2 separate regions of the Homo sapiens genome follow, and region 2 is linked to region 1. The links come from fine-mapping of genetic effects on gene expression. A gene starts in region 1. The other region holds a variant in brackets. All regions are shown on one strand. Distances are between the middles of the regions.

The links. PIP is the estimated chance that this variant, and not a neighbour inherited with it, causes the effect.
Region 2: its variant is the best candidate, but not a certain one, in a credible set for the expression of IGHMBP2 in cerebellar hemisphere (GTEx, PIP 0.72).

What each region holds. Positions count from the first base shown.
Region 1 is chr11:68,901,863-68,906,195 of GRCh38, forward strand. It overlaps IGHMBP2 (immunoglobulin mu DNA binding protein 2), which reads left to right and starts at 2,029. Exons shown (of 15, transcript NM_002180.3): 1 at 2,029-2,176; 2 at 4,207-4,333. The coding sequence starts at 2,091. It overlaps MRPL21 (mitochondrial ribosomal protein L21), which reads right to left and starts at 1,970. Exons shown (of 7, transcript NM_181514.2): 1 at 1,861-1,970. The coding sequence starts at 1,948. RefSeq lists enhancers at 1,843-2,570, 2,002-2,121, 2,452-2,511.
Region 2 is chr11:68,989,513-68,993,903 of GRCh38, forward strand. No RefSeq gene overlaps it. Among named protein-coding and RNA genes, the nearest start is that of MRGPRD, 11 kb to the left of the region's middle. The variant T/G (reference allele first, on the strand shown) is at 2,661.

The DNA of each region.
Region 1 (4,333 bases):
TCCCACACTCCTCCCTCTCACATGAGGGCAACTTCATCCTCCCAGTTGCTCAGGCCCCAAACCTCCATCAGTTTTGACTCTTCTCTCGCACACTACTCAGTCAACCCATTGGCAAATCCATCCCACTATTAAAAACTTAGCAGGCTTCTGTACCTAATTTGCTTCTAGCTTTGTTTTTGGGTCCCCAGGGAACAAACAGTCTCCTTCCTCTCCCACAGGATTTCCTTTAGGTAGTCCTAGAGACTGTGACTGTGTACTTCCATCACGTCTCCTTTGCTCACTCTTCAAGGCCCCAGCTGCTCACTGTTTTGGTCACCTTGTCTCTACTCGCTTCACTGTGTGTCTTTCTCTCCTAATGCGTGAGTCTGTACTTGAACATAGCATTGGAGGGGTGGTTTCATGTAGGTAGGTAGAATGGAGTAAGTCCCACTGCTTTTGTAAAAACTTTCCTGCCTACTTAAACCTAAGTTTTATTATGGAAAATGTCAAGCATACAAAAGTAAAGAGAACAGAATAGTGAACTCTCTCAATTATCCCTTTCCAGGTTCAACAGTTACCAACTCATGGCCAATTTTGGCATCTACATTGCCTCTGGCCCAACTCTGTGATTATTATTAATTTCTTAATAGACTTTATTTTTTAGCACAGTTTTAGTTTCACACCAAAATTGAGTGGAAGGTACAGAGAGTTCCCATATGTCCCCTGTCCATGTGCCCACAGCTTCCTATCAACATCCCTCACCAGAGTGGTACAATCTTTACAATTGATGAACCTACATTGACACATCATTGTTATCCAAAGTCCATAGTCTACATTAGGGGTTCACCCTTGGTAGTGTACATTCTATGGATTTGGACAAACTTATAATGACATGTATCTACCATTATATCATACAGAATAGTTTCACTGCCCTAAAAATCCTCTGAGCTCCACCTATTTATCCTTTTCTCCCCCAATCCTCTTACCCCCCATGTAACTTTTTACTGTCTCCTTAGATTTGCCTTTTCCAGAATGTCATAGTGGGAAACATACAAGATGTCCCCTTTTCAGGTTGGCTTCTTTTACTTAGTAACATGTATGTAAGTTTCCTCCATGTCTCTTCATGACTCATTTCTTTTTATTGCTGCATAATATTCTACTGTATGGATGTCCTACAGTTTATGTAACCATTCATCTCCTGAAGGACATCTGGGTTGCTTCCAAGTTTTGGGAATTATGGTACTATTCTTTTAATATCGTCCAATATAGAGTTAGATCCAGTTTTCCATTTTTGGGGGTCATGGTGAGACATGAAACCCAGGTTTAAAACATACATAAACACTCATGCACACAAATACACACTCCAACCATTTTCAAGCAGAGATTTATAGAGTTTTTAACGGACATAACCTTTTTGGAGCCTCGTATCAGCCCAGCGCCTTAAATACGGCTGTTTCTTTTGCAGAATGAGTTCAGATTAGGCGAGGATATCCATCACCATTTTTCAGACCAGCTCGCAGCCTGGGGGCAGTGGTTCAAGCACAGGCTTTGGAGCCGAAATGACTGCGCCTGAAGTACTCTTCTTCCACTTCCCCGCTGTGTGACCCTGGGCACGTTACCTAGCTCCTCTGAGCCTCACTCTTCTCCCCCATAACATAGGGCCTATACCAAAGTTCAAGGGCTATTGTCAGTATTCAGGCTACTAACTGAAGGAATCAAAATCTGAACCTGGGTTCCCCCGACTCCAAAACCCGTGCTATATTCACCACAAATGCGATCAACACACAAGGCACCAGGTCGGACCCAGGCACATACGTGGCGAGACCGCAGGGAGCAGCGCTCGCTCTGCGTCCTCCCTTCCTCCCATATCCCAGGTCTCACCTGCTCCGGGCCCCGAAGGTCTCAGGATGCTGTGGCTGCACGCGGACGCCAGCCGCCCTAAGGTGACCGTCAGGGAAGATGCTGCCATGGCCGCAGCCTCGGCCGGAAACGGAAACGACGCGAACCGCGTGCGTAACGCACGGGCCCGGCGGGGAACACCGGTCCGCTGTAACACCGGCCCGGCGCAGAAGCGGGACGTCGGCTTCTAGGGGCCCAGGCCGGCGGCGGCGATGGCCTCGGCAGCTGTGGAGAGCTTCGTGACCAAGCAACTGGACCTGCTGGAGCTTGAGAGAGACGCGGAGGTGGAGGAGCGCAGGTACGGGAGGCCGCCGGCGCCGCTCCCTCGCGGTCGGTCCCGCCGTGTCCCGGGCAGAGTCTCCGAGGGGCTCGGCCTCATAGTCTGGGGCGGGAATTTCGTCTCCGACCCTTCGAGTCAGGGGCAGGGATCGTCCGTCCCCTGCTTGGCCACCTCCCGAGTTGTCAGTCTCATCACTTCCTGGGCAGCGCGTTCCGTTTGGGGACCCTTAAGAAGCACTTTGATTTCCCGACCCGAGACCCCCCACTAAGCTTACACTCCTGGGCCCTGGCCCCGACCCCAGTTCCACCCGCAGCGAGTTAGCAGCCCTTTCCCTTATTCATTCAGTAAACATGGTTTGCGCCCATTCTCAGTCAGGCCCCGGCAGCATGAGTCAGGTGCACTGGCTGCCCCCGATCCGGCCAGCGGCGGGCTGGGCATAAGCAGAGAGTCCCTTCCCCTCCAGTGCGTCCAGGGCCGGCTGCGTGCGTGTCGCGGGGAAAGAGCCTGGAGGAGGAAGGCCCTTCCCTGGGGAGGGTCATGGTGGCTTCAAGGAGGGAGTGGTGCCTGAAGGAAAATTGGAGTTAAGCTGGTGGGTGCGGAGTAGGGTGGGGAGCCGTCCTGAGAGGTGTGGGGAGCCATGTGAGAGCCGGGCTTGTTTCCGAATGGGACTATTTACTTGTCCAAAACAATCAGAGCTAACACTTACGTACTTTCCATGCGTTAATTCTTTTACACCTCATCCCATGCCAACCCTACAGTGTAAGTTTCTTTTTTTTCTTTTTCTTTTTTTTTTTTTTAGACAGAGTCTCTCTCTGTCGCCCAGGCTGGAGTGCAGTGGCACGATCTCGGCTTACTGCAGCTTCCATCTCCCGGGTTCAAGCGATTCTCCTGCCTCAGCCTCCTGAGTGGCTGGGACTACAGGCGCGCCACCACGTCCTGCTAATTTTTTGTATTTTTAGTAGAGACAGGGTTTCACCATGTTGGCCAGGATGGTCTCGATCTCCTGACCTCGTGGTCTGCCCGCCTTGGCCTCCCAAAGTGTTGGGATTACAGGCGTGAGCCACCGTGCCCGGCCGCAGTGTAGGTTTCTGTTACTGTCATTTTCCGTCTAAGGAGATGGAGACAGAGAGGGGTTAAGTAACTTGCCCCGGGGTGACACAGTGTAGCCCGATTTGCTGTCAGGCAGTCTGCTTCCAGAGTTTGCAGTCAGCCATATGTGGGTAGGATTTGTCTGAGATGCTTTTGATCATGGCAATGGAGAGCTTTTGCAGTTATGTTGAGTTTCTTAGAATCCCAGCTGTTTCATTTATGGCTGTGTGACTTTGCAGGTTCTGTCTCTGAGCCTTACTTACTTCATCTGTAAAACTGGGATGATTCCCACCTCACAGGCTTGCTCTGAGAATGAAACGATCCCCTGTCAGTCAGGTGCTCAGCGTGGTGCCAAGGACAGAGTCAGCCCCCATGGCAGTGGCTCTTTCTGAGGATGCTGAGCAGACTGGCAGGGCGAGCCTGGGAAGGGCCTGGCTAAGGAGCTAGTCTTCTGTTCTGTGTATGAAGGATGGGCCATCAGCGGGGTTAAGCAGGTGAGGGAGGCGAATAGCTTTGCATTTTAGGAGGATTTCTTGGGTCTCCTGCTTTTGATTGGACGTGGAGAGGCCAGAGGTAAGGTAGTTGAGAGGCTCTGTTTAGTCCAGGTGAGCAGTGATGTGGATTTGAACCGGGGCTGTGGCAGCCAGGATGAGAGGCAGAGAAGTCCAGGTAGAAATGGGAGGGGCCTGATAGGACTTAGTGACAGATGGGAGGAGAGAGGGGAATGCTGATTGAAAGATCTGTCTCAGGTAACTGAGAGAAGGGTTGTGGCATTAACTGCCCTAGGGGGATGTAGGAGGAGCGGGATTGGGAGTGGAGCCAATTCGGAGTTCCATTGGGACATATTTAGTGCCTGTGAGTAGATCTTTATCTATGTTTCTTTCTCTTTTACTTTTCCTGGGTGGGTGGAAGTAGAAACTAGTAAAAATCCTGAAGCATCAATACCGGGTGTCTTCCAGGTCCTGGCAGGAGAACATCTCTCTGAAAGAGCTCCAGAGCCGAGGCGTGTGTTTGCTGAAGCTGCAGGTATCCAGCCAGCGCACTGGGCTGTACGGACGGCTGCTGGTCACCTTTGAGCCCAGGCGA
Region 2 (4,391 bases), 88 kb after region 1:
TTAATTTGTCTGCTATAAATATCAACCCATTATGACTGAGGTCTTGTCATTTTGTCTTCCACCTATTTTGAAACTTTGTTAAGTGACTACAAATCCAAGATTATTTGATAACACTGAGGAACTGTGTCCTTTATGTAGTGGTCCTCTTCATCCTTACTAATTTTTTTCTTTTTTGAGACTGAGTCTCACTATGTTGCCCAGGCTCCGGTGCAGTGGCCATGATCTTGGCTCACTGCAAACTTCGCCTCCTGGGTTCAAGCAATTCTCCTGCCTCAGCCTCCCAAGTAGCTGGGATTACAAGCATGTGCCACCATGCTCGGCTAATCTTTGTATTTTTAGTAGAGATGGGGTTTTGCCGTGTTGGCCAGGCTGGTCTTGAACTCCTGACCTCAAGTGATCTGCCCACCTCAGCCTCCCAAAGTGCTGGATTACAGGCGTGAGCCATCGTGACTGGCTCTTTATTTTTTATTTTTAAGTTTGCAATTACCGGTTTCCTTCTACAGGGATATCATTACTTTTTCTTGTGAGAGCCCCACGTTGTCATAAAGGTTTTGCTACCCAGGCATTTGGCATTGGCCTCTGTGGATATTCAAAGGATTTCACAGGTCCAGGACCAGGTTTTTGATGGATTTCTTGGCTAGGAGATTTGGCATCATGCAAGTGGTAGTAAATTCAGATCCTACACCTGTGAATGGTGCAAATTTGGGGCTCTAGCTACTCAAATTGGTGCCCAACTCTACCTGCACGCCCACACATCCACACACCCAGTTACAGGTGGGGTGGAGCTCCTAACAGCACCCTGGGCAGAACACTGCTTCCTCTGGGCAGCTCCCTGGGCCCTGGCCTCATGCAAGTTCCCCTGTTCAAACTCCCTCCCCAACTTGATGCACTCCAAGACCACCTCCTAACCTCTAGCCCTCCCACCCCTAGCCCCTGGAGCCTGTGTCTCATCTGGTGCACCCTGGGCCCCCGGCGTCAGCTCTGGTTGCTGATTCATTTGTGGCACCTGAAGATTTCTCTTCCTGTCTGTCATCTTTCTACTCAGTATTTTATTTGGGTGGGGCGGGAGGGGAATTGTGTTTTCTCCAACATTTTTTGGTCTCCACGGTGGGAGCACAGACCCATGTCCCAGAGTTACCAATCTCCACAGGTCACTATAATTGGAAATGTCCCCTCAGGTTTAAAACAGATTTAAACATTTACCAAACTCATACTATGTGCCAGATACATACATTCCATATATATAAAAACACATATACATATATAATAGTGCACACACACATATGCACATAGACATATATACATATCACACATAGCATATATTCATATATACATATGTAGCACATATATACACATAGAGCACATAGCTCTATACACAGCACATATACCTATACACAGTAAACACACATATATGTATACCCATGTACACGGACACACCGAGCACATATATAACGATGACCACGAACTCACAGTTGTGGGTAGGAAACACACAGTTAAAGGCAGTCCTACCCTACAGCTCAGGGTGTGTCTAACAAGGTGAGGGACTCAGAGGGTAGGACTCAGGTGGGAAGGGGAGCTGGGGGGAGCCAGGTGAGGGAGCGGGGTGCTGGCTGCAGGAGAAGTGTGCGTGCACGTGGCTGGGTACCAGGGTCAGGCCCTTCCCAGGCGGGCTTGGGCACCGGCTGCCTGATCCCTCTCCAGCTTGTTGGGGAACCCCCTTCTAATGCCATGGAGCCTGGCCTCTGCCTCTGGGTCACCTGTGCACCCACATGACCGCTGCAGGACGACGCGGGTCTACTCCATGTGGATTCAGGGGTGTTTGGGCAGTGCTCTGTGGGGAAGGGAGACCAGGGGCCCCGAAGCTCTGAGAGAGGAGGGTGCAGACACATGCTGCTGTCCCACGGTCCTTGTACTTATACTTCTGATGGGTCTTCCCAGGCCATTGTCCCCCACCTGCCACCTTCCCCATCCCCCACTCTGCTCTGGGTGTCTGGACAGGGTGGTGATGTCCAGTGGGGCTCAGAGGCCCTCAGGGCGCCTGGCTTCCTCTTGGGGGTCACCAGGGAGCCCCTTGCAGACATTTCCCAAGGGCCCGCAGTGTGTCAGGGGCTATTCCAGGTACCAGGGTGCTGGAGAGAAAGAGACAGGCCCCTCCTTGCACCTGTGGATGCCGTTCTGCAGGAGAGACGGTCCCTGAGCAGGGACAGCAAGGTGGCTTCAGCCTGGCACCTGTGAGGGTGATGGCGAGAGCTGTGATGGGGGCCTTTTTTTTTTTTTTTGACACGGAGTCTTGCTCCGTCACCAGGCTGGAGTGCAGTGGCGCGATCTCAGCTCACTGCAACCTCCGCCTCCTGGGTTCAAATGATTCTCCTGCCTCAGCCTCTCCAGTAGCTGGGATGACAGGTACACGCCACCATGCCCAGCTAATTTTTGTATTTTTAGTAGAGACAGGGTTTCAGTATGTTGGCCCGGCTGGTCTTGAACTCCTGACCTCAGGTGATCCGCCCACCTGGGCCTCCCAAAGTACTGGGATTACAGGTGTGAGCCACCGTGCCCGGCCTTGATGGGGGCCTTTATGCGGAACCCTGATGGGTTGCAAAGGGATAAGGGTTGGAGGTGGGGCGTGTGTTAGGGAGATGGCCCCAGAGGACCCCTCCCGG[T/G]GGGGAGATGCTCAGCTGCAGGGACCCCTGAGAGAGTGCAGGTGACATTCGAAGGAATGTGTGGTCATGGGTGGGGTAGGGGAACAGAGAAATGACAGGGAGGCTGATCTCTCCATTTACTGGAACGACGTGATTGTGTGCTGTATTCGAGGATAGTGATTCAGTGGACAGGGGACTCCTGATGCGTGGGAGAGGCCGCAGCTGCAGGAATGATTTCCTGGGGAGGTGTCGAGAGGAGAGGGGACCTAGCCCACAGTCGGGAGCTTGGCCAGCTAGGAGCTGAGACATCAACATCATCAGGAGGAGGCGCAGAACCAGGCGTGGGTCAGCCAGGGACTTGAGGGGGGGAGGTGACACTCCCTGGCATCCTCTTGCTCCTTGATAGCAGGAGAGTGTCAAGTATTGGGGCTGAGGAAAGGAAGAGGTACTTGGGGTGGAGGGGTTGAGAGACAGGAGCCCTTATCCCAGCCGAAGTAGAATAATGAGCTGTGGCTATTTTCTAGTAAAAGCCAACACATACGTGAAAACTGGCCACATCAGTGGAGATGCCTGGCTTCTCTGCAGTGACGTGAGCTTCAGGATGCAGGGGTGAGTGGGGAGGTGGAGGGTGGGGGAGAGTACGTGTCTCTGCCACCCCTGAATCAGGGGCTGGCATACAGTGGTGCTCAATAAATGTTTGTGGCTTGGCCCCTGGATTAAGCGCCCCGCAGCGCTTAATGAACTCCTGAACTCCCGGCCCTCCTTCCCTCGTCTCTGCAGATGGAGTGAGTTCAGCCAGCATGTCGGCTGGATGGGTGGGCACCGCGTCTGACTTGATCCCTCTGTCTGTCCACCTGGTCCCTAGTGTGAGTCCAGCTGCACCGTTTCGTAAGCCCCCTGCCACTGCGCAGACCCTGGTGAAAGTGAAACATTCCACGGGGATTTGGGCTGTGAGAAACAGCCTGCCTCTTATCATATTCTGCTGGGAGAAAGTGCAAGCAACACCCCCATGATCTTATCAATATCCTGCCAGGCAGCAAGCCATATTGCCCAGACCCCTCCCACCCATACCTATAAGTACCCCAGCCTGTAAGCGGTGGTGGGCTCTGGCATCAAGCTGGTCCCCCACCTCCGCAGGTTTTTACAATATACCTGCGTTTCCTGTAGAGCCGCCACTCTCTCTGTGTGTGTGTGTCTTTCCTTAACCCTCACCTCCCCTTTAAAAAACCTAACACTAGGCCAGGCACAGTGGCTTACACCTGTAATCCCAGCACTTTGGGAGGCCGAGGCAGGTGGATCAACGAGGTCAGGAGTTCGAGACTAGCCTGGCCAATATGGTGAAACCCTGTCTCTACTAAAAAATACAAAAATTAGCCAGGCGTGGTAGTGGGTGCCTGTTGGGCACTGAGTAGCTGGTGGGTCCCAGCTACTCGGGAGACTGAGGCAGGAGAACCACTTGAATCCAGGAGGCAGAGGTTGCAGTGAGCCCAGATGACGCCATTGCACTCCAGCCTGGGCAATAGACCGAGACTCCGTCTCAAACAAACAAACAAAACAAAACAAAACAAAACCTAACACGTAGTACCATGCCTGCAGGTAGTAAATGTTCAACAAGACTTGCTGACGGATGAATGAGTGTGCAGACCAGCAGGTTATACACTGGCTGTTTCCTGTAGGGGGCTGAATGGTGGTCCCTAAAGATAGGTCCCTGTTCCAGAACCCGTGAATGTGACTTATTTGGAGGTAAGGTCT